2 separate regions of the Homo sapiens genome follow, and region 2 is linked to region 1. The links come from fine-mapping of genetic effects on gene expression. Tissue or cell type: esophagus mucosa. Region 1 holds a variant in brackets; the other region holds the start of a gene. All regions are shown on one strand. Distances are from middle to middle.

Region 1 (16,154 bases):
CACAGCATCCTCTTAGAAGCAAGAGGAGAAGCAAGAGAAGCCCCTTTATTCTGCAGTGTCCCTCTACCACCACCTACTGACAAAGAACGTGGTGCTGTCTGGCAAAAGGGAAATGTTCAGTTTGCCATGACTTGAATGTGTCCCCTCAAATTCAAGTGTTGCCAATACAATAGCATCAAGAGGTGGGGCCTTTAAGAGGTCACTGGGCCACAAGGGGTTCTCTCTCAGGACTGGGATTAAGGCCCTTATAAAAGAGCCTTCAGGGAGCATCCTGCTAGCTTGCTTTCTGTATGTGAGAACACAGCAAGAAAGCCCTAGTCGAACAAGTGCCAGATCATTGATCTTAGATTTCCCATCCTCCAGAACTGTGAGAAATATATTTCTGTTCTTTATAAATTAAAAAAAAAAAAAACTTGCTGAAAGAAGTGCAGAGGGCTATAGAAGGAAAGCCAAAAGACCCTACCCAGCATTCTCTACAGTTACACCCCCTAGGGAGGGGGGAAAAGGGAAAGAAAAAATAATACTATTATAGGGAAATAAAAAGAAAAACTCCTACCCACACTAAAATAATTACAAATATTAGAAGTGCCAAGGTCTCCAGATGAGAAGGAACCAGCACAAAAAATCTGAATGTAGTGACACCACCAAATGATCACACTGGATCTACAGCAATGGTCTGTAATCAAAATGGAAACTCGGAAATGACAGATAAAGAATTCAGAGTATGGATTGCAAGGAAGCTCAATGAGCTCCAGGACAAGGTTGAAAATCAACACAAAGAAACTTCTAAAGGATTCTCTTCCAAGATGGCCGAATAGGAACAGCACCGGTCTGCAGTTCCCAGTGTGATTGATGCAGAAGACGGGTGATTTCTGCATTTCCAACTGAGGTACCTGGTTCATCTCAATAGGACTGGTTGGACAGTGGGTGCAGCCCACAGAGGGCAAGCTGAAGCAGGGTGGGTCATTGCCTCATCCAGGAAGTGCAAGGGGTCACGGGATTTCCCTTTCCTAGCCAAGGGAAGCCGTGACAGACTGTACCTGGAAAATCAGGACACTCTCTCCCAAATACTGTGCTTTTCCAATGGTCTTAGCAAACAGCACACCAGGAGATTATATCCCGCATGTGGCTCAGCAGGTCCCACACCCACGGAGCCTTGCTCACTGCTAGCGCAGCAATCTGAGGTCAACCTGCGAGGCAGCAACCTGGCAGGAGAGGGAGGTGTCCGCCATTGCTGAGGCTTGAGTAGGTAAACAAAGCAGCTGGGGAAGCTCAAAGTGGGCAGAGCCCACCACAGTTCAGCAAGGTCTGTTGCCTCTGTAGATTCCACCTCTGGGGGCAGGGCATAGCTGAACAAAAGGCAGCAGAAACTTCTGCAGACTTAAACATCCCTGTCTGACAGCTCTTAACAGAGCAGTGGTTCTCCCGGCATGGTGCATGAGCTCTGAGAATGGAAAGACTGCCTCCTCGAGTGGGTCCCTGACCCCCATGTAGCCTAACTGGGAGACACTTCCCAGTAGGGGCCAACTAACACCTCATACAGGCGGATGCCCCTCTGGGATGAAACTTCCAGAGGAAGGATCAGGCAGCAATATTTGCTGTTCTGCAGCCTCTGCTGGTGATACCCAGGCAAATAGGGTCTGGAGTGGACCTCCAGCAAACTCCAACAGACCTGCAGCTGAGGGACCTGACTATTAGAAGGAAAACTAACAAACAGAAAAGAATAGCATCAACATCAACAAAAAGCACATCCACACCAAAACCCCATCTGTAGGCTGCCAACATCAAAAACCAAAGGTAGATAAAACCACAAAGATGGAGAGAAACCAGAGCAGAAAAGTTGAAAATTCTAAAAACCAGAGCGCCTCTTCTCCTCCAAAGGACGACAGCTGGTGAGGACCAGCAATGAAACAAAGCTGGATGGAGAATGACTTTGATGACCTGACAGAAGTAGACTTCACAAGGTCAGTAATAACAAACTTCTCTGAGCTAAAGGAGGATGTTCAAACCCATCACAAGGAAGCTAAAAACCTTGAAAAAAGATTAGATGAATGGCTAACTAGAATAAACAGTGTAGAGAACACCTTAAATGACCTGATGGAGCTGAAAACCATGGCATGAGAACTACGTGATGCATGCACAATCTTCAACAGCCGATTCAATCAAGAGGAAGAAAGTGTATCAGTGATTGAAGATCAAATTAATGAGATAAAGTGAGAAGAGAAGTTTAGAGAAAAAAAGTAAAAAGAAATGAACAAAGCCTCCAAGAAATATGGGACTATGTGAAAAGACCAAATCTACATTTGATTGGTGTACCTGAAAGTGATGGGGAGAATGGAACCAAGTTGGAAAACACTCTTCAGGATATTATCCAGGAGAACTTCCCCAATCTAGCAAGGCAGGCCAACACTGAAATTCGGGAAATACAGAGAACACCACAAAGATACTCCTCGAGAAGAGCAACCCCAAGACACATAATTGTCAGATTCACCAAGATTGAAATGAAGGAAAAAAATGTTAAGGGCAGCCAGAGAGAAAGGTCAGGTTACCCACAAAAGGAAGTCCAACAGACTAACAGCAGATCTCTCAGCAGAAACTCCACAAGCCAGATGAGAGTGGGGGCCAATATCCAACATTCCTAAAGAAAAGAATTTTCAACCCAGAATTTCATATCCAGCCAAACTAAGCTTCATAAGTGAAGAAGAAATAAAACCCTTTACAGACAAGCAAATGCTGAGAGATTTTGTCATCACCAGGCCTGCCCTAAAAGAGCACTAAACATGGAAAGGAACAACTGGTACCAGACACTGCAAAAACAGCCAAATTGTAAAGACCATTGATGCTAGGAAGAAACTGCATCAACTAACAAGCAAAATAACCAGCTAACATCATAATGACAGGATCAAATTCACACATAAAAATATTAACCTTAAATGTAAATGGGCTAAATGTTCCAATTAAAAGACACAGACTGGCAAATTGGATAAAGAGTCAAGACCCATCAGTGTGCTGTATTCAGGACACCCATCTCACATGCAGAGACAGGCTCAAATAGAGGGATGGAGGAAGATCTACCAAGCAAATGGAAAGCAAAAAAAAGCAGGGGTTGCAATCCTAGTCTCTGATAAAACAGACTTTAAACCAACAAAGATCAGAAGAGACAAAGAAGGCCATTACATAACAGTAAAGGGATCAATTCAACAAGAAGAGCTAACTATCCTAAATATATATGCACCCAATACAGGAGCACCCAGATTCATAAAGCAAGTCCTGAGTGACCTACAAAGAGACTTAGATTCCCACACAATAATAATGGGAGACTTTAACACCCCACTGTTAATATTAGACAGATCAACGAGACATAAGATTAACAAGGATATCCAGGACTTGAACTCAGCTCTGCACCAAGTGGACCTAATAGACATCTACAGAACTCTCCACCCCAAATCAACAGAATAGACATTCTTCTCAGCACCACATCGCACTTATTCCAAAATTGACCACATAGTTGGAAGTAAAGCACTCCTCAGCAAATGTAAAAGAACAGAAATCACAACAAACTGTCTTTCAGACCACAGTGCAATCAAATTAGAACTCAGGATTAAGAAACTCACTTAAAACCACACAACTACATGGAAACTGAACAACCTGCTCCTGAATGACTACTGGGTAAACAACAAAATGAAGGCAGAAATAAAGATGTTCTTTGAAACCAATGAGAAAAAAAACACAATGTACCAGAATCTCTGGGACACATTTAAAGCAGTGTGTACAGGGAAATTTATAGCACTAAATGCCCACAAGAGAAAGCAGGCAAGATCTAAAATTGACACCCTAACATCACAATTAAAAGAACTAGAGAAGCAAGGCCAAACAAATTCAAAAGCTAGCAGAAGGTAAGAAATAACTAAGATCAGAGCAGAACTAAAGGAGATAGAGACACAAAAAACCCTCAAAAAATCAATGAATCCAGGAACTTGTTTTTTGAAAAGGTCAACAAAACTGATAGACCGCTAGCAAGACTAATAAAGTAGAAAAGAGAGAAGAATCAAATAGACACAATAAAAAATGATAAAGGGGATATCACCAACAATCCCACAGGAATACAAACTACCATCAGAGAATACTATAAACACCTCTACTCAAATAAACTAGAAAATCTAGAAGAAATGGATAAATTCCTGGACACACACATGCTCCGGAAGAAATTGAATTTTTGAATAGATCAATAACAGGCTCTGAAATTGAGGCAATAATTAATAGCCTACCAACCAAAAAAAGTCCAGGACCAGATGGATTCACAGCCGAATTCTACCAGAGGTACAGAGAGGAGCTGGTACCATTCCTTCTGAAACTATTCCAATCAATAGAAAAACAGGGAATCCTAACTCATTTTATGAGGCCAGCATCGTTCTGATACCAAAGCCTGGCACAGATGCAACAAAAAAAGAGAATTTTAGACCAATATCCCTGATGAACATCGACGTGAAAATCCTCAATAAAATACTGGCAAACCAAATCCAGCAGCACATCAAAAAGCTATCCACCACGATCAACTCAGCTTCATCCTTGGGATGCAAGGCTGGTTCAACATATGCAAATCAATAAACGTAATCCATCACATAAACGGAACCATCGACAAACAACACATGATTATCTCAATAGATGCAGAAAAGGCCTTCGACAAAATTCAACAGCCCATCATGCTAAAAACTCTCAATAAATTAGGTATTGATGGGACGTTATCTCAAAATAATAAGAGCTATTTATGACAAACCCACAGCCAATATCATACTGAATGGGCAAAAACTGGAAGCATTCCTTTTGAAAACTGGCACAAGACAGGGATGCCCTCTCTCACCACTCCTATTCAACATAGTGTTGGAAGTTCTGGCCAGGGCAATCAGGCAAGAGAAAGAAATGAAGGGTATTCAATTAAGAAAAGAGGAAGTCAAATTGTCCCTGTTTGCAGATCACATGATTGTATATTTAGAAAACCCCATCATCTTAGCCCAAAATCTCCTTAAGCTGATAAGCAACTTCAGCAAAGTCTCAGGATATCAAATCAATGTGCAAAAATCACAAGCATTCTTATACACCAATAACAGACAAACAAAGAGCCAAATCATGAATGAACTCCCATTCACAATTGCTACAAAGAGAGTAAAATACCTAGGAATCCAACTTACAAGGGATGTGAAGGACCTCTTCAAGGAGAACTACAAACCACTGCTCAATGAAATAAAAGAGGACACAAACAAATGGAAGAACATTCCATGCTCATGGGTAGGAAGAATCAATAGCGTGAAAATGGCCATACTGCCCAAGGTAATTTATAGATTCAATGCCATCCCCATCAAGCTACCAATGACTTTCTTCACAGAATTGGAAAAAACTACTTTAAAGTTCATATGGAACCAAAAAAGAGCCTGCATTGCCAAGACAATCCTAAGCCAAAAGAACAAAGCTGGAAGCATCACGCTACCTGACTTCAAACTATACTACAAGGCTACAGTAACCAAAACAGCATGGTACTGTTACCAAAACAGAGATGTAGACCAATGGAACAGAAAAGAGCCCTCAGAAACAATACCACACATCTACAACCTTCTGATCTTTGACAAACCTGACAAAAACAAGAAATGGGGAAAGAATTCTCTATTTAATAAATGGTGCTGGGAAAACTGGCTAGTCATATGTGGAAAACTGGCTAGTCATATGTAAAAACTGAAACTGGATCCCTTCCTTCCACCTTATACAAACATTAATTCAAGATGGATTAAAGACTTAAATGTAAGACCTAAAACCATAAAAACTCTAGAAGAAAACCTAGGCAACACCATTCAGGACATAGGCATGGGCAAGAACTTCATGACTAAAACACCAAAAGCAATGGCAACAAAAGCCAAAATAGACAAATAGGATCTAATTAAACCAAAGAGCTTCTGCACAGCAAAAGAAGCTACCATCAGAGTGAACAGGCAACCTACAGAATGGGAGAAAGTTTTTGCAATCTACTCGTCTGACAAAGGGCTAATATCCAGAATCTACAAACAACTTAAACAAATTTACAAGAAAAAAACAAACAACCCCATCAAAAAGTGGGCAAAGGATATGAACAGAAACTTCTCAAAAGAAGACATTTATGCAGCCAACAGACAGACATGTGAAAAAATGCTCATCATCACTGGCCATAAGAGAAATGCAAATCAAAACCACAATGAGATACCATCTCACACCAGTTAGAATGGTGATCATTAAAAAGTCAGGAAACAATAGATGCTGGAGAGGATGTGGAGAAATAGGAACACTTTTACATTGTTGGTGGGACTGTAAACTAGTTCAACCATTGTGGAAGACAGTGTGGCGATTCCTCAAGGATCTAGACCCATTTGACCCATTGATCCCATTACTGGGTATATACCCAAAGGATTATAAATCATGCTATAAAGACACATGCACACATATGTTTATTGTGGCACTATTCACAATAGCAAAGACTTGGAGCCAACCCAAATGTTCATCAATGATAGACTGGATTAAGAAAATGTGGTACATATACAACATGGAATACTATGCAGCCATAAAAAAGGTTGAGTTCATGTCCTTTGCAAGGACATGGATGAAGCTGGAAACCATCATTCTCAGCAAACTATCACAAGGACAGAAAACCAAACACCGCATGTTCTCACTCATAGGTGGGAATTGAACAATGAGAACACTTGGACACAGGGTGGGGAACATCACACACTGGGGCCTCTCGTGGGGTGGGGAGCAGGGGGAGGGATAGCATTAGGAGAAGTACCTAATGTAAATGACGAGTTAACGGGTGCAGCACACCAACATGGCTTATGTATACCTATGTAACAAACCTGCACGTTGTGCACTTGTACCCTAGAACTTAAAGTATAGTTTTTAAAAAAAAGAAAAAAAATACTTCTAAAGCAATCTAGGAAATGAAGGAAGAGATAAACATCTTAAAAAGAAATCAGTCAGAGTTTCTAGATTTGAAAAACTCACTTAAGGCATTTCAAAATAAAACTGAAACCTTTATCAATAGACTGGACCAAGAAGAAGAAAAAGTCTGAGCTAGAGCTTGAAGACCAGTTTTTGAACTAATCCAGTCAGATAAAAGTAAAGAAAAAAGAGTTTTTATTTTTTTTTATTATACTTTAAGTTCTGGGGTTTGTTACATAGGTATACATGTTTGATGTCGGTTTGCTGAAGACCTGAAGGAAGTGGGTGGCAAGCCATGTGCACGTTCAAGGCAGGTCATTCCAGGCAGAAGGAACAACAGGTGAGAATGCCCTGAGATGGGACTGTGCCTGAGGGCTTAAGGGACAGCAAGTATGCCATGTGGCTGGAGGGAGCAGCTAAGGAAAAATTATGAAGCGATGGGGACAGAAGCAAGCAAGGGCAAATCCTGTGCACTATTAGGATTCTGCTTTTTACTTTGAACTAGAGGGGAAATTATTAGAGCATTTTGAGTAGAAAAAAATGCAGAAAAGTTCATTTGTATCTCTCCTTTTGAGAAATGTCTGTTTGGATCCCTTGCCCATTTTTAAATCAGATTATTTGTTTTCTTGCTATTGAGTTGTTTGAGTTCCTTATATGGTCATGCATCATATAAAGACATTTCTGACAATGACAGGCCACACGTATGACGGTGGTCCCATAAGATTATAATGGAGCTGAAAAATCCTATCGCCTGCTGACGTTGTAGCTGTCCTAATATCCTGGCAGAACTCATTCTTCACATGTATGTGGTGATGCTGCTGTCAACAAACCTACTTCACAGCCAGCCATATAAAAGTATAGCACACACAGTTATCTATAATACAGAATACTTGCTAATAATCATAAATGACTGCATTACTGGCTTATGTGTTTACTATAGATTGTTATTTTAGAATGTATTCATTTGTCATATTTTTTTAATTTAATATAAAACAGACTCAGGCATGTCCTTCAGGATGCATTCCAGAAGAAAGCCTTGTTATCCTAGGAGATGACACCTCCATGCATGTTATTGTCCCTGAAGACCTTCCAGTGGGACCAGGTGTGGAGGTGGAAGAAAGTGATATTGCTTATCCTAACCCTACGTAGGACTGGGCTAATGTGTGTGTGTTTGTGTCTTCATTTTTAACAAAAAGTTTACAAACTAAAAAATAAAGAAAAAGAAATTTTACATAGAAAAAAGCTTATAGAATAAGGATATAAGAAAATGTTATGTACAGCTTTAGAATGTTTGGGTTTTAAGCTAAATATTATAAAAGAGTCAAAAGGTTTGCAAAAAAATAAAAAGTTTATAAAGTAAAAAGTCACAGTAAGCTAAGTTCATTGTTGAAGAAAGAAAAATATTTTTTGTAAGTTTAGTGTAGCCTAAGTGTATAGTATTTATAAAGTCTACTGTAGTGTATAGCAATCCTAGGCCCTCTCATTCACTCACCGCTCACTCACTGACTCACTCAGAGCAACTTTCAGTTCATAGTAAGCTATTTCTGCAAGTTCCGTTCATGGTAAGGGCTTTATACAGGTGTACCATTTTTAATTTTTATACTTTATTTTTACTGTACCTTTACTACTTCAGATTTGTTTAGTTACACAAATTCTTATAATTATGTTACAGCTGTCTATAGTATTCAGTACATTAACATGCTGTACAGGTTTATAGCCTTTGAGCAATAGGCCATACCATATAGCTTAGGTGTGCAGTAGACTATATTGTCTACGTTTGTGTAAGTACACTTTATGGTGTTCCCACAACTGAAACCACCTAATGATGCATTTATTAGAATGTAGCTCCATCATTAAGCAACTGATTTATACACGACTATATATTTTGGATATTAGCTCCCTAGCAGATGTATGGATTGCAAATATTTTCTCCTAATCCATAGGTTGTCTCTTCACTCTGTTAATTTCTTCCTTTACTGCACAGAAGCTTTTTAACTTAATGGAATCCATTTGTCTAATTTTGCTATTGTTGCCCGTGCTTTCGGAGTTCTACCCAATAAATCATTGCCCAGACCAGTGTCATGGAGCTTTTCCCTATGTTTTCTTCTGGTAGCCTTGCCGTTTCAAGTCTTACGTTTAAGTCTTTTATCCGTTTTGAATTGATTTTTTTTTATGGTGTGAGTATAAAGGTCCAATTTTATTCTTCTGAATGTGGATATCCAGTTTTCCCAATACCATTTATTGAAGAGATTGTTCTTTCCCCATTACGCATTCTTGGCACTTTTGTTGAAAATCAATTGACCCTAAATACTTCGGTTTATTTCTGGGCTTTTTATCCTGTTCCATTGGCCAATTTGTCTGTTGTAATGCCAGTACCATGTTGTTTTGATTATAATATCTTTATAATATATTTTTAAAATCAGAAACTGTGATGCCTCCAGTTTTGTTATTTTAACTCAAAATTGTTTGGCTATTCACAGTCTTTTCTGGTTGTATATGAATTTGGGGGTTTTTTTCTATTTCTGTGAAAATGATATTAGAATTTTGATAAGAATTGCATTGAATCTGTAGATCACTTTGGGTAGTAGGGATATTTTAACAGCATCAGTTCTTCCAGTCCATGAACATGGGATTTTTCTAATTTATTTGTGTCTTCTTTAATTGTTGTCATCAATGCTCAATCATCAGGGAAATATTCTAATCATCAGGAAAATGCAAATTAAAATTACAATGAGCTATCCCCTCACACCTGTTAGAATGGCTATTAGCAGATAAATGAAAGATAAGTGTTGGTGAGGATGTGAAAAAAAGGAAAGTCTTGTAGGCTGTTGCTGGGAATGTAAATTAATACAGCCATGTTAGAAGACAGTATGGAGGTCCCTCAAAAAACTAAAAGCAACAGAACTACCATATGATTCAACAATCCCACTTCTAGTTATATATCCACAAGAAGTGAAATCAATAAGTTAGAGAAATATCTGCACTCCCATATTCATTGATGTATTATTTACAATAGATGAAACCAATCTAAGTGTTCATAAACAGATGAGTGAATAAAGAAAATGTAATATATATATATATATATATATACATGAAATAATATTCAGCCTTAAAAAAGAAGGATATGCTTTCATTTGTGACAACACAGATGAATGTGGAGGACATAATGCTAAGTGAAATAAGCCAGGCACAAAAGGAAAAATACTGCATAATCTCACTTATATGAAAAATTTTTAAGTTAAACTCATAGAAATAGAGAGTAGGACGGAGGTTACCAGATACTAGGGCGGGACTAAGATGGGGGTTATTGAAGAGATGTTGGTCAAAGAGTACAAAGTTTCAATTAAACAGAAGGAATAAGTTTTTGAGATCTATTGTACAACAGGGTGACCATAGTTAATCGCTGAGAGTAAATTGCAAATGCCCCATCACAAAAAATGATGAGAAAGTGAAGTGATAGATATATTAATGTGCTTGATGGAATCATCCCCTATTGTATACATATATCAAAATATCACATTTTGCCCCATAAAAATATACAATTATGATTTATCAACTTAAAGTAATATTCATTTTAGAAACAAAAAATCTGTTCAATAATCTAATGATATCTCACTTAGTCAACACACAATTGCAAGCCATCCAACCAGGGTCATTCTACAGGTCTCTAGGGTTTTCTCTCTGTACAACTCTTTCTTCTCTGTACTCTGTCCTGAAAACTCTAGCTGCCTTGGCTTCCCCAGACTCTCACCTTCATCCATTCAACTC[G/A]AGGAGGTTCTTAGGCTGTTCTTGGGTTCCTCCTTCCTGTGCCATGCTGGAAACTCTCTCAAGACAGTAATCTGGGGCAATCAGAGGGCTCACCTTGGTTTTCTTCCATTTCTCAAGGCTCACTGTCCTTTTTAACTGCTGTCCAATTACTTGAAAACCATTATTTCATATATTTTGTGGGTTTTTTAGTTGTTTCCAGCAGAAGGAAAAATCCAGTCTCTGCTACTCCATGTTGGCCAGAATCAAAAGTTTACTTTCATTTTTGAAAGTTATTTTGCTGAAAATTATTGTCAATTCTAGATTGATAGTTTTCCTTTATTTTGCTTTGCTTTTTATCATGGATTTGCATTATAATCATCAATAATTGTAACCTTTCTTTCTCTGAATGCATTGGGTCTTTCTGTGCCTGCTTTTAAAGTTATCCCTTTATCATTGGTTTTCAGGAATGTGATTATTGTACATCTTGGGATAGTGTTCTTGTGTGCTTATCCTGTTCAGAGTTCACCAAGCCATTTGGGTCTGTGGAGTTTGGTTTTTATTACATTTTCATTAAATTTTCAGCACGTATTTCTTTTAAGTATTGTTTTTGCTCACTTTAGTTATGGGGCTCCAATTACATGTGTTATATCGTATCACAGGTCCTTGAAGGTCTTTGCACTTTTTGTTTTTTGTGCTTCAGTTTAGCTTCTATTACTATATCTTAAATTTCATTTATCATTCCATCTGCATTACCTATTCTACTAACAAGCCTGTACAGTGTATTTTTATTTCACACATGATATTTTTTAGCTCTAGACATTCCATTTCGTTATTTTCAATTTATTCTTTTCTTTCCTCAATAGGCTTCTGTTTTCTTTTAAACACTTGAGCATATTTATAATAAGCTGTTTTAAAGTCCTTATCAGCTAACCCACCATCGTCATCCCATCTGTCATTTCTGTATTCTGTTTATTAACTAATTGATATGTTATAGATCACATTTACCTGCCTCTTCCCATGTGTAGTAATACTGGAATTGTGAATGTTGCATTATTGAATGTGTCTGGATTTTGTTGTATTCCTTTAAGAAGTGTTAAATTTTGCTTTAGCTGGCAACTAGTTATATGCAGATCCACTTGATTCTTTTGAGGCTTGTTTTTATACTCTGTTAAAATGGGGTTTATACAGCCTCCACTCTACATCTTATCCCTTCTACTAAGACATGATCCTTCTGGGACTTCTAATGAATGTCCTGAGTGTTCAATGAGTTCTGTCCATGGTAGCTGGTTGAAACCCAAATATCTGCCAGAACCAGTCAAGCTCTAGAAATTTTGCAGGCTACAGCTAGCTGATAGCTTTTAAATCTACTATTTTGAAGCCTTATGCTATACATGCACAAGTTAAGTATTTAGACCAAGGCTCAAGGTACCCTATGTAAGTTACTGGATAATACTCCCTCTTTCCTAGAACTCTGCCCTAAAAATGTTAGTTCCTTTGGCCTCCTCAACCTCCTATCTCTGTGTTGTTAACTCAGAGAGACCACTCCACCTTATACAGGTTTCTCTTTCTGAACTGTGGTTCAGAATGTGCTCCAGGCAGAAACCTGGGGCAATCTTAGGACTCCTGTTTGTTTGCCTGTGCTTCCTATTACACAATATCTGAAAACAGTTGTTTAGTATATTTTGGTGAGGTTTTTATTTATTTGCAGAAAGAGAGCAGATTCACTAAAAGCTATTTAATCAAGCTAAAAGTGAAAGCCTACTCAATATTTTAAGAAATATATCTGAAGGTTGATGTCTGCTCTAGAGATGGAGGTTAGGTAATTATTTGAAAAATAGACAGCAAATGAAATAGTAACTGTGAACAATATTGCCCAGGAAATGTATAACAGTTAGAATTGGGTTGAGAGAGAAGTAATGCAGATCCAACATAATGGTAATTTCAACAAGAAATTGATTTTCATTCATGCAGAAGTAAAAAGTAGGCAGTGTAGGGCTGACAGCGCAGCTGTGTTTCACAAAGTCCTCAGGAACTTAGTCTTCCTCCAACTCAATGCTCTGCCCTCCCATCTGTATTCCAGCAGACAAATGAATAAAGGGACTAGTAAGAGACAAGGAAGGCACACACTAACCGTCTTTAAGAATGGTTTCTGGATATTAACTCAGAAAACTGCTGCTTACATCCCCCTTGTCATATGGCCAACCTAGCTGTATAGGAAACTAGAAAACATACTATTTCTTCTGAATGACCATGTGCTCATTTAACAATGCTATCATACTGGTAGCAGTGGAAAATGGATATTGGAAGTCAATATTTTGTGTAGACACTCGTTTCTCTGCCACAAATGTATAAAGAGAATAGATGAGACCTAGAGAGGTCCACTGTTTAAGGATGAATAAGTATAAACATAGCCTATAAGGGATAATGGGTTGCCTACCCTGACTGTCTCTCACGGATTTCTTCCCACTCCCTCTTAAATCAATTCCAATCAAGTTTTCTTACTACAAGCCCATGAAAATTGCTTTTGTCAAAGTTATCAATGACCTCAATGTAGCAAAATTCAATAGTCAGTCCTCAGTTCTCCTCTCAATCTATTAGCACCATTTGATCTATTAGCACTGTTTATATCACACTTAATGAAGTTTTTGAAACCTTTTTCATATGGCTTCCAAGTGTCACATTCTCTCCTAGTTTTCTCCTTACTTTACATTCAGTCTTCCTCATCTTCTTTGATGTTCTCTCCTCTTCACTCAACCTCTAAACAGTAGGGTTCCCTAGGGATTCGTCTCTGGAACTTCTTACTCTCTCATAGTGATTTTTCACTGCTTCCTAAGTGGTCTTATCCAGCCTCATGACTTTAATACATCTATAGTGTCTGTGCTCAAATGATTGTCTTCAACTCAGGCATCTTCCCGAATTATATGCTACAACCTTAATATCTCTACTTGGATAAATAATGACACTTGTTACTTTCTAATATACTATATAATACATTTATTTATTTTCTCTTTTTTTCCACTGAAATATAAAATCAATGGGAAGTGGAACTCCAGGTGCATAGAATAATGACTGGAACATACTAGGCCTTCAGTAAATAATGTTTAGTGAATAAAAAGAAATAGGTGATAGGGAAAACAAGAGCACTACTTCTCTGCAGCCACAAAAGGAGGAAATTTGAAGAAGGAGTGAGTAGTTCATAGTGTATAATTCACCACAGAGAATGTTTAAAATCGTAGAAGGTGAAAGAGAGGCCGGGGCAATCATCCAAGACTGCCCAGACCCCCAGGTGAGCCCTCCTGCCGTTCTACATGCCATGACCTTAAGCACTGGAAAACACAGGTTTCAATCCATAGTTTGCAGAGGAACAGAAACCATCTCATTTAATTGATAAAAGAGTTGAGAAAAACTCATTTACCCTATTGTCTTTGTGCAAATATAATTTGGACAGAGCTGCCCATGCTGAGGATGAGCATGGTGCGGGGTAGGGGAGAAGGTGGGAAGTGACAGAGATTCCATACAAGCACACTACAGGAAAAGAAGAGAGTGGAGGAATCAATTCAGGTAGAAAACATAGCTCAAGAAAAAGAACAGTTTTATGCCATGGAAGAATCTAAGAGAAATACTTTAATAAGGTAAAAACCTCAAAGCTGCAAAGATACAACAACAGAAATATGTGAAAAGAGAGACTGTAAAGCTAAGGAAAAGAACTGAAGGTCACAACACAATATCTGAACTGATGAATTGGAAAGTAATTATAGTTGAGAGTTGAGTTATAGACATAGAGGAAAGAGCTGCCGTGATCTCAGAGAATGCAGACGAAAAAAAATCAAAGATGCAAGAATTAGACAAGATAATGTATGGAGAATCCTAAAGGACAATTGGTATCTGTGAGGTAGGGAACCTAACAAATAGAATATAAAAGATATTTAATTATTATAAGAGGAAATTTTCCTGAAAGGAAAAAATGAATCTGTAGCTCCCAGGAAAAGTGACATAGAGTGACTGAGACACAGGTATTGCCTGGTTAAAGTGCTTAACTTCAAGGATGAAGAAAGAATTCTTCAGGCATACATTTAGATGTATATGCAAAGAGTTTGGGAAAATTTGACTAGCCTTGTTCTTCTTCAAAGCATCAATAAGTCAACGGGAGACCTTTGCATGGCTACAAAAGACTGAGGGCAAGAAGGTGTTACCTGCTACCTAAAAATATAATCTCTCTCCAAGGAATTCTTCAAGAACAAAGGCAAGAGGCAAAGTTTCTCAAATATGAAGGGACTTGGGGAGTGAAGCACTACTGAAAAAATTATTTGATCACAGCCATTCAAGGAATAAAACAAAATGACTGATACTTACCAATGAATAAATTTAAACAGACTGGGAACGGTGGCTCACACTTGTAATCCCAGCACTTTGGGAGGCCGAAGCAGGCAGATCACTTGAGGCCAGGAGTTCAAGACCATCCCGGCCAACATGGTGAAACCCTGTCTGTACAAAAAAAAAAAAATACAAAAATTAGCCGAGTGTGGTGGTACATGCCTGCAATCCCAGCTATTCAGGAAGATGAGGCACAAGAATCACTTGAACCTGGGAGGTGGAGGTTGCAGTGAGCCGAGATCGTGCCACTGCATTCCAGCCTGAGTGACAGAGCAAGACTCTGTCTCAAAAAAAAAAAAAAATTTGATAAAGAATTAACACTAAACAGCCATGAGGGATACGGTTACACTCCTTGGCAATTTACAAATAATAAAATAATTGGAGATAGGAGATGATAGAAGAGCAAGATGGGAGAAGAACTCATTTTCTTGCCTTTTTTAGCAGAAAAAAAGTAAACACTGTTTAAAAGTGAAGACATGATGTGAGCAATAGGGATTACTGGAATACACTAGAGTGAAGTGGTGATTAGTCACTTCATTATTGTCATGTGAAAATGTCAGCCAAGGTGATTCTGATGAGACGTCATATTTAAAATCTTGGTTGATAATTCTAGATGACAGGGAGCATCTAAAGGATTTTAGGCAGAGGAGTGACATACAAAGGTTGCATTTTTAAATTATTCCCCATGCCTGCTGTGATATGAGCCTCCAGGATTCAAGGAAAATTTGAAGAGAACAAGATGGTGGCAGGACAACCAGCTGGGAGCACGAGACCAGCTGTCCAGGTGAGAAGAGGAGGGCTATGGTGAGTCGGCTGGACTGTGTTGATTGGGGATTAAGGAGAGGAGTCAAGGTGGACTCCCAGGTTTCAGCTTAGGAGGCGAGGTGGCATTAGCAAATGACACAGAGAGCACAGAATGAGACAGATACATGACCAAGAAAATGTGACAAAATATTAATAATTGAGGAATATGCACATACACACACACACACACGTGGGGGCTAACATTTAATGTGAAACAATTTCGGACTCACAAAATGTTTCCAGGAAAAAAAAAATCTCTTCTATATCCTTCA
Region 2 (16,154 bases), 48 kb after region 1:
TCAAAAGGGCAATAGAAAATAGCCTCAAAAGGGCAAATCTAGGAGTTACTGGCCTTAAAGAGAAGATTGAGAAACAGATAGGTGTAGAAAGTTTATGCAAAGGGAGAACTTCCCAAAGCTAGAGTAAGATACCAATATTCAAGTACAAGGTACAAGAAGATAATAGAACACCCAGCAGATTTAAGCCAAAGAAGACTACCTCAGGCATTTGATAATCAAACTCCCAAATATCAAGTATAAAGTAAGAATCCTAAAGTGGCAAAAGAAAAGAAAAAATAACAAACAATAAAATTCCAATACGTCTAGTAGCAGACTTTTCACTGGAAACCTTACAGGCCAAGAGACAGTGGCATGACATATTTAATGTGCTGAAGGGAAAAAAACTTTTACCCTAGAATAATATATCTGGCAAAAAAAATATGCTTCAAGGATGAAGGAGAAATAAAGACCTTCCCAAACAAAAACTGAGAGATTTCATCAACACCAAACCTGTCTTACGAGAAATACTAAAGGGAGTTGTTCTATCTGAAAGAAAATGATGTTAATGAGCAAGAAGAAATCATCTGAAGGTACAAAACTCAATGGTAGTAGGAAGCACACAGAAAAACACAGAATATTATAACACTGTAATTGTGGTGTGTAAACTACTCTTACCTTAAGTAGAAAGGCCAAACGATAAACCAATCAAAAGCAACTACAACTTTCAAGACATAGTACCACAGGACATAAAGACAAACAACAAACAGATAAAAAGCAGAAGACAAAGTTAGAATGTAGAGTTTTTATTAGTTTTCTGTTTGTGTTTGTTTGTTTATGCAATCACTGTTGTCATCTATTTAAAATAATGAGTTTTAAGATAGCATTTGCAAGCCTCATAGTAATTTCAAATCTAAAAACATACAATGAATAAGCAAAAAATGAAAAGCAAGAAATTGAAATATACCATCAGTGAAGATTACCTTCACTAAAAGGAAGAAGAAAAAGAAGAAACAGAAGATCACAAAACAACCAGAAAACAAAAAATAAAATACCAAAAGTACTCACTTATTAGTAATAACATTAAATGTAAATGAACTAAACTGTCCAATCTAAAGACATAGAGTGGTTGAATTAATTAAAAAAACAAGACCCAATGATCTGTTACCTACAAGAAACACACTTCTCCTATAAAGATAAACATGGAATAAAAACACAGGAATGGAAAATATATTCGTGTCAATGAAAACCAAAAAAGAGCAGGAATAGCTATACTTGTATCAGACAAAATAGATTTAGATTCAGATTAGAGCTAAAGAGATAGACCCCAATGCAATAATAGCTAGAGACTTCAGGCGAGACGCGATGGCTCACGCCTGTAATCCCAGCATTTTTGGAGGCCGAGACGGGCAGATCACGAGGTCAGGAGATCGAGACCGTCCTGGCTAACACGGTGAAACCCTGTCTCTATTAAAAACACAAAAAAATTAGCCAGGCGTGGTGGTGGGCACCTGTAGTCCCAGTTACTCAGGAGGCTGAGGCAGGAGAATGGCGTGAACCCAGGAGGTGGAGCTTGCAGTGGGCCGAGCGGAGATCGCGCCACTGCACTCCAGCCTGGGTGACAGAGCGAGACTCCATCTCAAAAAAAAAAAAAAAATAGCTAGAGACTTCAACATCTCACTTTCAGCATTGGACAGATCTCCCAGACAGAAAATCAACAAGGAAACTTTGGACTCAGTCTGTACTATAGAACAAATGAACCTAATAGGTATTTACAGAACATTTTATCCAATGGATGCAGAATACACATTTTTCTCCTCATCACATGGATCATTCTCAAGCGTAGACCATATTTTAGGTCACAGAACCAGTCTTAAAACACTCAAAAAGTTGAAATAATATAACGTATCTTCTCTGAACAAAATGGAATAAAACTATAAATCAATAACGAGAGCAATTTTAGAAATTATACAAACACATGGAAATTAAACAATATGCTCCTGAATGACCAATGGGTCAATGAAGAAATTGATGAGGAAATTGAAACATTTCTTGACACAAATGATAATGCAAACATACCAAAACCCATGGGATACAGCAAAAGCAGTACAAAGAGGGAAATTTATAGCTATAAGTGTCTACATCAAAACAGAAGAAAAACTTCAAATAAATAACCTAATGATGCATTTTAAAGAACTAGAAAACCAAGAGCAGCCCAAACCCAAAATTAGTAGAAAATAATAAACAATAATGATCAGAGCAGAAATAAATGAAGTTAAAATTAAGAAAACAATACAAAAGATGAATGAAATGAAAGTTGCTTTGTTGAAAAGATAAACAAAATAGACAAATCTTTAGCCAGACTAAGAAAAAAGAGAGAAGGCCCAAATAAATAAAATCACAGATGAAAAAGAAAACATTACAACTGATATTGCAGGAATTCAAAGGATTATTGGCAGCTACTATGAGCAACTATACACCAATAAATTGGAAAATCTAGAGGAAATGGATAAATTCCCAGAAACATACAACCTACCAAGATTGAACCTTGAAGAAATCCAAAACCTGTACAGATCAATAACAAGTAATGAGATCAAGGCTGTAATAAAAAGTCTCCCAGTAAATAAAAGCCTGGGACCCAGTGAATTCAATGCTGAATTCTACCAAACATTTAAAGAAGAACTAATACCAATCCTATTCAAACTATGTTTAAAAATAGACAAAGAGGGGATACTTCCAAACTCATTCTATGAGGCCAATATTACCCTAATAAAAAACAAGACAAAGAAACTTAAAAAAAAAAAACTACAAGCCAATATTTCTGATGAATATTGATGGAAACATCCTCGACAAAATACTAGGAAACCAAATTCAACAATACATTAAAAATATCATTTATCATGACCAAGTGGGATTTATCCCAGGGATGCAAGGATGGTACAACACGCACAAATCAATCAATGTGATACATTATAGCAAGAAAATGAAAGACAAAAACCACGTGATCATTTCCATTAATGCTGAAAAAGCACTTGATAAAACTCAATATCCCTTGATGATAAAACCCCTCAAAAAACTGGGTATAGAAGGAAGATAACTCAACATAATAAAAAGCCATATATTACAGACTCACTCAATGGGGGAAAAGAGAAAAACATAAAGGGCATCCAAATTGGAAAGGAAGAAGTCAAATTGTCCTTGTTTGTGGATGATGTGGTCTTATATATGGAACAAACTGAAGATTCCAACAACAAAAAACTATTAGAAGTTATAAATTTATTAAAGTTGCAGGATACAAAATCAACATCCAAAAATCAGTAGCACTTCTATATGCCAACAGAGAAGAATCTGAAAAAGAAATCAAGAAAGTAATTCCATTTACAAGAGCTACAAATAAAATTAAATTCTTAGGAATTAATTTAACTGAAGAAGTAAAAAATCTCTTCAATGAAAACTATAAAACATTGATGAAAGAAACTGAAGAGGACACAAAAAATGGAAAGATATTCCATGTTCATAGATTGGAAGAATCAATATTGTTAAAATGTCCATACTATCCAAAGCAATCTTCAGATTCTATGCAAATTATATCAAAATATCAATGACATTCTTCACAGAAAGAGAAAAAACAATCCTAAAATTTATATGGAAACACAAAAGACCCAGAATAACAAAATCTATCCTGAGCAAAAAGAGCAAAACTCAAGGAATCATATTATCTGACATCAAATTATACTACAGAGCTACAGTAACCAAAACAGCATGGTACTGGCATGAAAACAGACACACAGACCAAAGGAAAAAAATCGAGAACCCAGAAACAAATCCATATACCTACAGTGAGCTCATTTTTTACCAAGGTGCCAAGAACATACATTAGAGAAAGGACAGTCTCTTCAATAAATGGTGCTGGGAAACCTGGATATTCATATGCAGGAGACTGAAACTAGACCACTCTCTCTCATCATGTACAAAAATAAAATCAAAATAGATTATAGACTTCAATGTAAAGCCTCAAACTGTGAAACTACTACAGGAAAACACTGGGGAAACTCTCCAGGACATTGGTCTAGGCAAAAATTTCTTAAGTAATACACCACCAGCACAGGCAACCAAAGCAAAAATAGACAAATTGGATCTCATCAAGTTACAAAGCTTCCCTCCAGCAAAGGAAAAGATCAACAACAGAAAAAGAGAACCCACAGAATGGGAGAAAATATTTGCAAACTTCCCATCTGATAAGGGAATAATAACCAGAAAATATAAGGAGCCCACACAACTCTATAGGAAAAAAATCTAATAATCAGATTAAAATATGGGCAAAAGAGTTGAATAAACATTTCTCAGAGGAATACATACAAATGAAAAAAAGGCATATGAAAAGGTCCTCAACATTATTAGTTATCAGAAAAATGTAAATCAAAACTACAATGAGATATCATCTCACCCCTGTTAAAATGGCTTATATCTAAAAGACAAGTAATAAAAAATGCTGGAGAGAAGGTAGAGAAAAGGGAAACTTGTACCCTGTTTGTGGGAATGTAAATTAGTACAGCCACTATGGAGAACAGTTTGGACCTTCCTCAAAAAGCTAAAAATAGAGCTGCCATACAACCCAGCAACCTCTCTGCTGGGTGTACACCCAAAAGAAAGAAAACCAGTATATTGAAGAGATATCTTCACTCCCATGTTTGTTGCAGCACTGTTCACAATAGCCAAGATTGGGAAGCAATGCAAGTGTCCATCAACAAATGAACAGGTAAACAAAATGTGGTACATATACATAACAGAGTACTACTCAGCCATAAAAAAGAATGAGATTGGCTGGGTGCGGTGGCTCATGCCTGTAATCCCAGCACTTTGGGAGGCTGAGGCGGGTGGATCAACTGAGGTCAGGAGTTCAAGACCAGCCTGACCAACATGGAGAAACCCCGCTCTACTAAAAATACAAAATTAGCCAGGCATGGTAGCGCATGACTGTAATCCCAGCTACTTGGGAGGCTGAGGCAGGAGAATCACTTGAACCCAGGAGGCGGAGGTTGCAGTGAGTCGAGATTGCACTGTTGCACTCCAGCCTGGGCAACAAGAGCAAAACTCCGTGTCAAAAAAAAATGAGATCCTGTCATTCGCAACAACATAGAGGGGACTAGAGGTCATTAAGTGAAATAAGCCAGGCACAGAAAGACAAACTTTACAATGTTCTCACTTATTTATGAAAGCTAAAAATTAAGACAATTGAAGTTATGGAGATAGAGTAAAATGATGGTTACCAGAGGCTGGGAAAGATATTAGGGGGTGGGAGGGAGGTGGGGATGGTAAATGAGCACAAAAAAAATAGTTAGACTGAATAAGATCTAGTATTTCTGAATAAGATCTAGTATTCGATAGCACAACAGGGTGACTATAGTCAATAATTGTACAGTTAGAAATAACTAAAACAGTATAATTGTATTGTTACAATTAAGAGTATAATTGTATTGTTACAATTATAACAAATAGGAATAGGACTTCCTAACTACATGGAATTCAGTTTTTGAACTTTCTAAATATGTTCAATAATGAAGAGAGACAGAATTTTCAACAGTTCATGTAAAATTCCTGATGTGACCATTTCAATTCTCTGATATGGGCCATGTAAGAGGTCACTGGACAAGCAGAGAATAATGAGAATATAAGATGCTTCTTTAAGACTGGACCTGTGCAATAATGTATCGAAGATATATTCCTTAGCCTTACATGCTATCAGGAATTCTCCATTATTAAGACGAACTTAACTTCCTTTTCAGTCAAATTCTGTAGGAAAAAAAACTCTTCGACTCATTTCACAAACCCATCCAGAACATTTTTGTCGCTGATGATAGTAATCTTTTCTTTTTCATCCCCTGATCCCATTAGGACTTACCAGATTATATATCCCTTTGTCCTGTAGAGAAATAGCAGGATTGGCCGGGCACGGTGGCTCACGTCTGTAATCCCAGCACTTTGGGAGGCTGAGGCCGGTGGATCACGAGGTCAGGAGTTCAAGATCAGCCAGGCCAAGATGGTGAAACCCTGTCTCTACTGAAAATACAAAAATTAGCCAGGAATGGTGGCAGGCACCTGTAATCCCAGCTACTTGGGAGGCTGAGGCAGAGAACTGCTTGAACCCGGGAGGCAGAGGTTGCAGTGAGCTGAGACCATGCCGCTGCACTCCAGCCTGGGCAACTCCGTCTCAAAAAAAAAAAAAAGAGAGAAAAATAGCACAATTGAGTAGGGCCCCTTCCAATCTTCAGACCTCCTGCGGTCAAGTAGAAATTGTCAGACAAACTCCAGGACCAGATCAATGTGATTCTGTTCACTGTTCTCTTCTCACCAATGGGTCCCTGACTCAATTTCCAATGCAGTATCCTGGAAAAATAAGCACAGGAGGGCCCTGTTCATTTCCAGAAGAGTAAGTCTGGAACTAGTTCTGGATCACAGAACCTTAGCTCTCAAGTCCTCAGCAAAAAGTCTGTGGAACAAAATCAAGTGGCATCTAATTATGTATCTCCTGAATCAGAATTAAAAAGGCTTCCTCAGAGTCACACCCATTTCCTTTCACATACAGAACTAGCTGAGCAAGTCTTTGATTCATGGATTCCCAGCAACTCTAGCTGGAACAACTTCTTTGGCTCGTATTCCTCTGGTATATGTGCTGAATTTAGAATTCAATCACTGGACACCAGGAAAGGCAACTTCAGCAGGAGGGACAGGCACTAGCGCCAGGGCCCTGGGAAGCACCTCTGAACTGCCTACATGTGGGGCTCTGTACAACAGGAATTACTGTGCTTAATGCCTCCTCTGTGTTAAGCACCATGCATGTATTATCTAAATCCAATCTTACAACAATCTTTATTTTAAATATAAATAAAAAGGGGATTTGTGAAAGGAATTAAAAACTTGCCTGAAACCCATGTCCTTTCCAATTACTCCCTATGGGTTTCAAGATGAAGTAAAGTGCCTATAGGAGCAGAAACTGTATAAACAGGATTGCTACACCTTTAAGTTTTGAGTAACTTCCTGGAACTGACACTCAATACAGCAACATTCCTTTCAGCTGACAGTATTTCACAATGCATTTACTTTACTTTTGTTTTCTTTTAATATTCATAAAAGTCTTATGCCTTCCCTTTCCACTGTAAGAACCTGATATGCACTTCACTTGGGACAAAGCTCAGACTGTGCTTTCTGCATATCACCACCAGACACGATGTTCCAAATTAACTTTCACGTTCTATAATTTCCATTGTAAAAACTATAGACTTGAAATATAAAATTATAATTACATACATAACCCTTCTGTGTACCAACATTCTATAGGCCCCAACCTGCTATTGGGTATTCCAGAAGTCGGAGAAAAGTAACTTAGCTGTTTGGGAACAGTTATGTGAGTCACACCAACCTAAATAACAGATAAAGAAAAGCTCTCTAAAAGACAGTGATATTTATTCAAGAATGAGCATTGCAATGGGAATATGCGTGCCATCACAAACTATGTGTGTATTCAGACAGGTAAGGGAAGAAAAAAGTTTTAAAAAGAAAAATAAGAAGGATTACACAATTGTTTTGAATCAATTCTTTGCTTACAAGGATCAGTAACAAAGGTGGCACCAGTCCAAGGTTAGACAGGCAGTTGGTGGACAGATGTCCTGGCAGAAGTATTTTTTGTTTAAGGTTGCAATAGCCTTTGTGCAAAGCTGTAGTTTTTAGTTTTGTTTTGTCTTTAATTTTTATGGGTACATAGATGTATATATTTATTTATGGGATATATGGGATATTTTAATACAGGCATACAATGTATAATAATCACACCAGGGTAAATGAGGTATCTATCATCTCAGATATTTATTTTTTGTGTTAAAATATTATACTCTTTTAGTTATTTTTAAATGTACAATTAAATTATTATTGACTATAGTCAATAATATATTGTGCTATCAGACATTAGATCTTATTCCTTCTAAATCTTTTTGTACTCATTAACCATTCCCCCTACCCCTGCACACCCACCCCACTACCCTTCCTAGCGTCTGGTAACCATCATTCTATTCTCTATCTCCGTAAGTTCAGTTGTTTTAATTTTTAGCTTTCACAAATAAGAGAGAACATGTAAAGTTTGTCTTTCTGTGCTTGGCTTATTTCACTTAACATAATGACCTCCAGTTCCATCTATGTTGTTGCAAATGACAGGATCTCATTCTTTTTATGGCTGAATAGTACTCCATTATGTATACGTACCATTTTTTTTATTCATTCATTTGTTGATGGACACTTGGATTGCTTCTAAATCTTGGCTATTGTGAGTGGAACTGCAATAAACATGGGAGTGCAGATATCTCTTCAATATATTGATTTCCTATTTTGGAGGTATATACTTAACAGTGGGTTTGCTGGATCATACGATAGTTCTATTTTCAGTTTTTCTGAGGAAGGCCCAAACTGTTCTCCATAGTAGTTGTACTAATTTACATTCCCACAAACAGTGTCCAAGGGTCCCCTTTTCTCCACATCCTCTCCAGCCTGTTATTGCCTGTCTTTTGGGTAAAATCCATTTTAACAGATGTGAGATGATATCTCATTGTAGTTTTGAATGGTGTTTCTCTGATGATCAATAATGTCGAGCACATTTTCATATGCGTGTTTGCCATTTGTATGTCGTCTTTCAAGAAATGTCTATTTAGAACTTTTGCCCATATTTTAATTAGTTTATTAGATTTTTTCCTGTATAATTGTTTGAGCTCCTTGTGTGTTCTGCTTACAAATCCTTTGTCAGATGCTTAGTTTGCAAATATTTTCTCCCATTCTTTGGGTTTTCTTCTTCTGTTGTTGATTGTTCTTTGCTGGAAGGAAGCTTTTTACTTTGATATGGTTGCATTTGTCCATTTTTGTTTTGGCTGCCTGTGCTTGTGGGGTATTACTCAAGAAATGTTTGCCCATTCCAATGTCCTGGAGAGTTTCCCCAATGTTTTATTGTAGTAGTTTCATAATTTGAGTCCTTAGATTCAATTATTTAATCTATTTTAATTTAGTTCTTGTATATAGTGAGAGATAAGGGTCTAGTTTCAGTCTTCTACGTGTGGATATCTAGTTTTTGCAACACCATTTATTGAAGAGACTGTCTTTTCCCCAATGTATAGTCTTGGCACCTTTGTAAAAAATGAGTTCACTGTAGGTGTATGGATTTGTTTCTGGGTTCTCTATTCTTTTTTCATTGGTCTATGTGTCTGTTTTTATGACTATACCATGCTCTTTTGGTTACTATAGCTCTGTAGTATAATTTGAAGTCAAGTAATGTGATTCCTTGAGTTGTGTTCTTTTTGTTCAGGATAGTTTTGGTTATTCTGGGCCTTTTGTGTTTCCATATAAATTTTAGGATTGATTTTTCTCTTTCTGTGAAGGATGTCATTGGTAGTTTGATAGAGATTGTATAGAATCTGAAGATTGCTTTGGGTAGTATAGACATTTTAACAATATTGATTCTTCCAATCTATGAACATGGAATATCTTTCCATTTTTTGTGTCCTCTTCAGTTTCTTTCATCAATGTTTTATAGTTTTCATTGAAGAGATTTTTCACTTCTTCAGTTAAATTAATTCCTAAGAATTTAATTTCATTTGTAGCTCTTGTAAATGGGATTACTTTCTTGATTTCTTTTTCAGATTCTTCTCTGTTGGCATATAGAAGTGCTACTGATTTTTGGATGTTGATTTTTTATCTGGCAACTTTAATTTATTTATCACTTCTAATAGTGTTTTATGTTGGAATCTTTAGGTTTTTCCATATATAAGACCACATCATCCACAAACAAGGATAATTTGACTTTTCCTTTCCAATTTGGTTGCCCTTTACTTTTTTCTCTTGTCTAATTGCTCTAGCTAGGAGTTCCAGTAGTATGTTGAATAACAGTGGTAAAAGTGTACATCCTTCTTGTGTTCTTGATCTTAGAGAAAAGGCTTTCAGTTTTTCCCCATTCAGTATAATACTAGGTATGAGTCTGTAGTATATGGCTTTTATTGTGTTGAAGTACATTTCTTCTACATCCAGTTTTTTAGAATTTTTATCATGAAGGGATATTGAACTTATTTATTCAAATGGTTTTTCAATACCAATTGAAATGATTATGTGGTTTTTGTCCTTTATTCTATTGATATGATGTATCACATTGATTGATTTGTGTACGTTGAACCATCCTTACATCCCTAGGATAAATCCCACTTGGTCTTGATGAATGATCTTTTTAAGGTGTTATTGAATTCAGTTTGCTCATGTTTTGTTGATGTTTCCATCAATATTCATCAAAGCTGTTGGCTTGTAGTTTTTTTTTTTTTTTTTGATGAATCTTTGTCTGATTTTGGTATCAGGGTATTACTGGCCTCATAGAATAGGTTTCGACATATTCCCACCTCCTCTATTTTTTGAAATAGTTTGAAAGAATTAATATTAATTTGAAAAAAAAATCAGGAGGGAAGTTGATGGGTCCTGGGCTTTTGTTGCTGAGAGACTTTTTATTATAGCTTTGATCACATTACTTATTATTGGCCTACTCAAGTTTTGGGTTTCTTCCTGGTTCAATCTTGCTAGGTTGTATGTGTCTAGGAATGTATCAATTGCCTCTAGGTTTTCCAACTTATTGGCATATAGTTGCTCATAGTAGCCTCTAATGATCCTTTGAATTTCTGTGGTATCAGCTGTAATGTCTCATTTTTTATCTCCGATTTCATTTATTTGGGTCTTCTCTCTCTTTTTTTAGTTAGTCTGGGTAAAAATGGGTCAATTTTGGCAGGTGTGGTGGCTCACACCTGTAGTCCCAGCACTTTGGGAGGCCAAGACTGGCAGATCACTTGAGGTCAGGAGTTTGAGACCAGCCTGGCCAACATGGTGAAACCCCCTCTCCACTAAAAATACAAAAATTAGCCAGGTGTGGTAGCATGTACCTGTAATCCCAGCTACTCAGGAGGCTGAGGTAGGACAATTGCTTGAACCTAGGAGGCAGAGGTTGCAGTGAGCCAAGATCACACCACTGCACTTCAGCCTGGGCAACAGAGCAAGACTCCATCTCAAAAAATATTAATTATAATAATAGGAAATGGGTCAATTTTATCTTCTTAAAAAAAGACTTTTCATTTTTTAATCTTTTGTGTTGTTTTCTTCTTTTCAATATAATTTCTTTCCAATTTGATCTTTAATATTTCATTTCTTCTACTAATTTTGGGTTGGGTTTACTCTAGCTTTTCTAGTTCTTTAAGATGTATCATTAGGTAGTTTATCTAAAGTTTCACTTCTTTTTTGATGTAGGCCCTTATAGCTATACATTTTTCCCTTATTACTTCTTTTACCATATCCTATAGATTTGGGTATATTGTGTTTCCATTATCATTCGTTTCAAAAAAATTTTCAATTTCCTTCTTAATCTCTTTATTGACTCACTAGTCATTCAGGAGCACATTGTTTAATTTCCATGGGTTTGTATAGTTTCCAAAATTCTTCTTGTTATGGATTTCTAGTTCTATTCCATTGTGGTCAGAGAAGATACTTCATATTATTTCAACTTCTTTTAATGGTTTACAACTTGTTTTGTGACCTAACATATGGTCTTTTCTTGAGAATGAGCCATTTGATGAGGAGAAAAATGTGTATTCTGCAGCCACTGAATGATAGGTATTCTGTAAATACCTATTAGGTTCATTTGTTCTATATTGCAGATGAAGTCCAATGTTTCTTTCTTGGGTTTCTGTCTAGGAAATCTGTCCAATACTAAAAGTCGTGGGTTGAAGTCTCCAGCTGTTATTGTACTAGGGTCTAACTCTCTCTTTGCTGCTAATATTTCCTTTACATATCAGGGTACTCCCATGTTGAGTGCATATATATTTGGAATTGTTTTATCTCCCTGGTGAACTGACCCCTTTGTCATTGTATGCTGGCCTTATTTGTCTCTTGATATAGTATGTGTCTTGAAATCTATTTTGTCTGATATAGGATAGCTATTCCTGCTCTTTTTTGGTTTCCATTGACATGGTATATCTTTTTCCATCCTTTATTTTCCCTCTAGGTGTGTCTTTATAGGTGAATTGTGTTTCCTGAAGGCAACAGATCATTGGTGCTTGGTTTTTTGTTTTTTGGGGGTTTTTTGTTTGTTTTTTGTTGTTGTTGTTGTTGTTGTTGTTGTTGTTGTTGTTGTTGTTGTTTTGAGACAGAGTCTCACTCTGTTGCCCAGGCTGGAGTGCAGTGGTGTGATCTCAGCTCACTGCAACCTCCACCTCCTGGGTTCAAGTGATTTTCCTACCTCAGCCTCCCAAGTAGCTGGGATTACAGGCTTGCACCACCACACCCGGCTAATTTTTGTATTTGTAGTAGAGACAGGGTTTCACCATGTTGGCCAGGCTAGCCTCAAACTCCTGACCTCAAGTGATCCACCCACCTCAGCCTCCCAAAGTGCTTGGATTACAGGTGTAAGCCACCATGCCCAGCCTTTTTGTTGCTGTTGTTTGGTTTTTTAATCCATTCAGCTAATCTACATCTTCTCACTGAGGAGTTTAGACCATTTACACTCAGTGTTATTAGTGATAAATAAAGACTTACTCATGCCATTTTGTTATTTGTTTTCTGCTTGTTTTGTGAAATTCTGTTCCTTCTTTCCTTCCTTCCTCTCTTATTTTTAGTGAAGGTGATTTTCTCTGGTAGTATGTTTTAGTTTCTTGCTTTTTTTTTTTTTTTTTTGAATATCCATTGTATGTTTTTAGATTTGAAGTTACCCTGAGGCTTCCAAATACTATCTAACAACCCATTATTTTAAACTGATGACAACACTGATTGCATAAACAAGCAAAAATAAAACTAATAAAAACTATACACTTTAACTTTGTCTCCCCACTTTTTAACTTTTTTGTGTCTGTTTATGTCCTATTGTACTCTATCTTGAAAAGTTGTAGTAATTTTTAATCAGTTCATCTTTTGTTTTCCTACTTAAGATATGAATAGTTTACACACCACAATTACAGTTATAATATTCTGTGTTTTTATGTGTACTTAATATTACCATTGAGTTTTGTACCTTCAGATAATTTCTTCTTGCTCATTAACATCTTTTTCTTTTAGATTGAAGAACTCTCTTTAATTTTTCTTGTAGGACAGGTCTGGTGTTGATGAAATCCCTCAGCTTTTGTTTGTCTGGGAAAGTTTTCATTTCTCCTTCATCCTTGAAGGATATTTTTGCTGGATATACTATTCTAGGGTGAAAGTTTTTTCCTTCAGCACTTTTAATATGTCATGTCACTCTCTACTGGCCCGTAAGGTTTCCAGTGAAAAGTCTGCTGCCAGATGTATTGGAGCGCCATTGTATGTTTTTTTGTTTTGTTTTGTTTTCTTTTCTTTTCTCTTGCTGCTTTAGCTTTGCTTTCTTTATACTTGACCTTTGGGAGTTTGATTATGAGATGACTTAAGGTACTCTTTTTTGGATTAAATCTGCTAAGTTTTATATAACTTTCTTGTACATGAATATTGTTACCCTTCCTAGATCTGGGAAGTTCTCTGATATCCCTTTGAGTTTGTTTTTTTTTTTATTTCCATAGTTTTTGGGGAACAGGTGGTGTTTGGTTACATGAATAAATTCTTTAGTGGTGGTTTCTGAAATTTAGTAGTGATTTCTGAAATTTTGGTGCACCCAAAAGCAACTGCTGTTGCTTTAAAGTTTGTTTTGTCTAATATAAGAATAGCTACTTCTGCTTGCTTTTGCTGTTCATTTACATTGAATATCTTTTTTGACCACTTTACCTTAAGTTTACGTGAGTCCTTATGTGTTGAGTCTCTTGACACCTGAGCAGTGTACACTGTACCCAATGTGTACTCTTTGGCTCCACACCCCCTCCCACCCTTCTATATTAATTTGTTTAGAATTATTTAATTTTCATGCATTTGCATGGTTTTGAGGGTTCCTTTTGGAGCGGATTTCCAATTTTATTCCCCTGTGGTCTGAGCAAGTACTCAAGTACTTGATATAATTTTGATTTTTCTTAAATGTATTGAGACTTGTTTTGTGGCCTATCACAGGGTCTATCTTGGAGAATGTTCCATGTGTTGATGAATAGAATGTATATTCTGCAGTGTTGGCTAAAATGTTCTGTAAATATCTGTAAAGTCCATTTGTTCTAGGGTATAGTTTAAGTCCATTGTTTCTTTGTTGACTTTCTGTCTTGATGACCTGTCTAGTGCTGTCAGTGGAGTATTGAAGTCCCCCACTATTATTGTATTGCTGTCTATCTCATTTCTTAGGTCTAGTGGTAATTGTTTTATATATTTGGAAGCTCCAGTGTTAGATGCATATATATTTAAGACTGTGATAACTTCCTGTTGGACTAGTTCTTTTATCATTATATAATGTCCCTCTTTGTCTTTTTTAACTGCTATTGCTTTAAAGTTTGTTTTGTCTGATATAAGAATAGCTACTCCTGCTTGCTTTTGCTGTTCATTTGCATGGAATATCTTTTTCCACCCCTTTACCTTGAGTTTATGTGAGTCCTTATGTGTTAGGTGAGTCCTTATGTGTTAGGTTGAAGACAGCAGATATTTGGTTGGTGAATTCTTATCTATCTGCCATTCCGTAGTTTTTAAGTGAAGCATTTAGTCCATTTATATTCAACGTTAGTATTGAGATGTGAGGTACTGTTCTATTCCTCATGCTAGTTTTTGACTGAATACCTCTTTTCTTCATTGTGTTATTGTTTTATAGGTCCTATGAGATTTATGCTTTAAGGAGGTTCTATTTCGGTATATTTGGAGGATTTGTTTCAAGATTTAGGGCTGCTTTTAGCTGTTCTTATAGTGCTGGCTTGGTAGTGGTGAGTTCTCTCAGCATTTGTTTGTCTGGAAAAGACTATCTTTCCTTCATTTATGAAGCTTAGTTTCATGGAATATAAAACTCTTGGCTGGGCCAGGTACGTGGCTCACCCCTGTAATCCCAGCACTTTGGGAGGCTGAGGCAGGAGGATCACCTGAGGTCAAGAGCTTGAGACCAGCCTGGCCAACATGGCAAAACCCCATCTCTACTAAAAATACAAAAATTAGCTAAGCATGATGGTGCGTGCCTGTAATCCCAGCTACTCGGGAGGCTGAGGCAGGAGAATCGCTTGAACCCAGGAGGTGGCAGTTGCAGTGAGCCAAGATCACACCACTGCATTCCAATCTGGGCAACAGAGTGAGACTCTGTCTCAAAAAAAAAAAAAAAAGAAAAGAAAAGGGAAAAAAAAGAAACTCTTGGCTGATAATTGTTTTGTTTAAGGAGGCTGAAGATAGGACCCCAATCCATTCTAGCTTGTAGGGTTTCTGCTGAGAAATCTGCTGTTAATCTGATAGGCTTTCCTTTATAGGTAACCTGATGCTTTTGCCTCACAGCTTTTAAGTTTCTTTCTTTCATCTTGATTTTAGATAACCTGAAGAATAGGTGCCTAGGTGATGATCTTTTTGCAATGAATTTCCTGGGTGTTCTTTGAGCTTGTTGTATTTAGATGTCTAGATCTCTAGAAAGGCCAGAGAAGTTTTTTCAATTATTCCCTCAAATAAGTTTCCCAAACTTTTAGATTTTTCTTCTTCCTCAGGAACACCAATTATTCTTAGGTTTGGTCACTTAACGTAATCCTAAACTTCTTGGAGGCTTTGTTCTTTTTTTTTTATTCTTTTTTCTTTGTCTTTATTGAATTGGGTTCATTTGAAAGCCTTGTCTTCAAGCTCTGAAGTTCTTCCTTCTACTTGTTTGATTCTATTGTTGAAACTTTCCAGTGTATTTTGCATTTTTCTAAGTGTGTTTTTCATTTCCAGAAGTCGTGCTTCTTTTTTATGCTATCTAGTTCTCTGGAGTTTTTTAATCCATACCCTGTAAAACTTTTTAATTTCTTTTTTTTTTTTTTTTTTTTTTGAGATGGAGTTTTGGAGTTTCACTCTTTTTGCCCAGGCTGGAGTGCAATGGCATAATCTCGACTCACTGCAATTTCTGTCCCCCAGGTACAAGCAATTCTCCTGTCTCAGCCTCCCAAGTAGCTCAAATTACATGCACAAGCCACCACGCCCAGCTAAATTTTTTGTATTAAGTAGAGACAGGGTTTCACCATGTTAGGCTGGTTGCAAACTCCTGATCTCAGGTGCTCCACCCACCTCGGCCTCCCAGAGTG

The links. PIP is the estimated chance that this variant, and not a neighbour inherited with it, causes the effect.
Region 2: GSDMC starts here. The variant in region 1 is fine-mapped to the expression of GSDMC in esophagus mucosa (GTEx, PIP above 0.99).

What each region holds. Positions count from the first base shown.
Region 1 is chr8:129,731,892-129,748,045 of GRCh38, forward strand. It overlaps a transcript of GSDMC not described here. Among named protein-coding and RNA genes, the nearest start is that of GSDMC, 47 kb to the right of the region's middle. The variant G/A (reference allele first, on the strand shown) is at 10,726.
Region 2 is chr8:129,780,133-129,796,286 of GRCh38, forward strand. It overlaps GSDMC (gasdermin C), which reads right to left and starts at 6,492. Exons shown (of 14, transcript NM_031415.3): 1 at 5,879-6,492.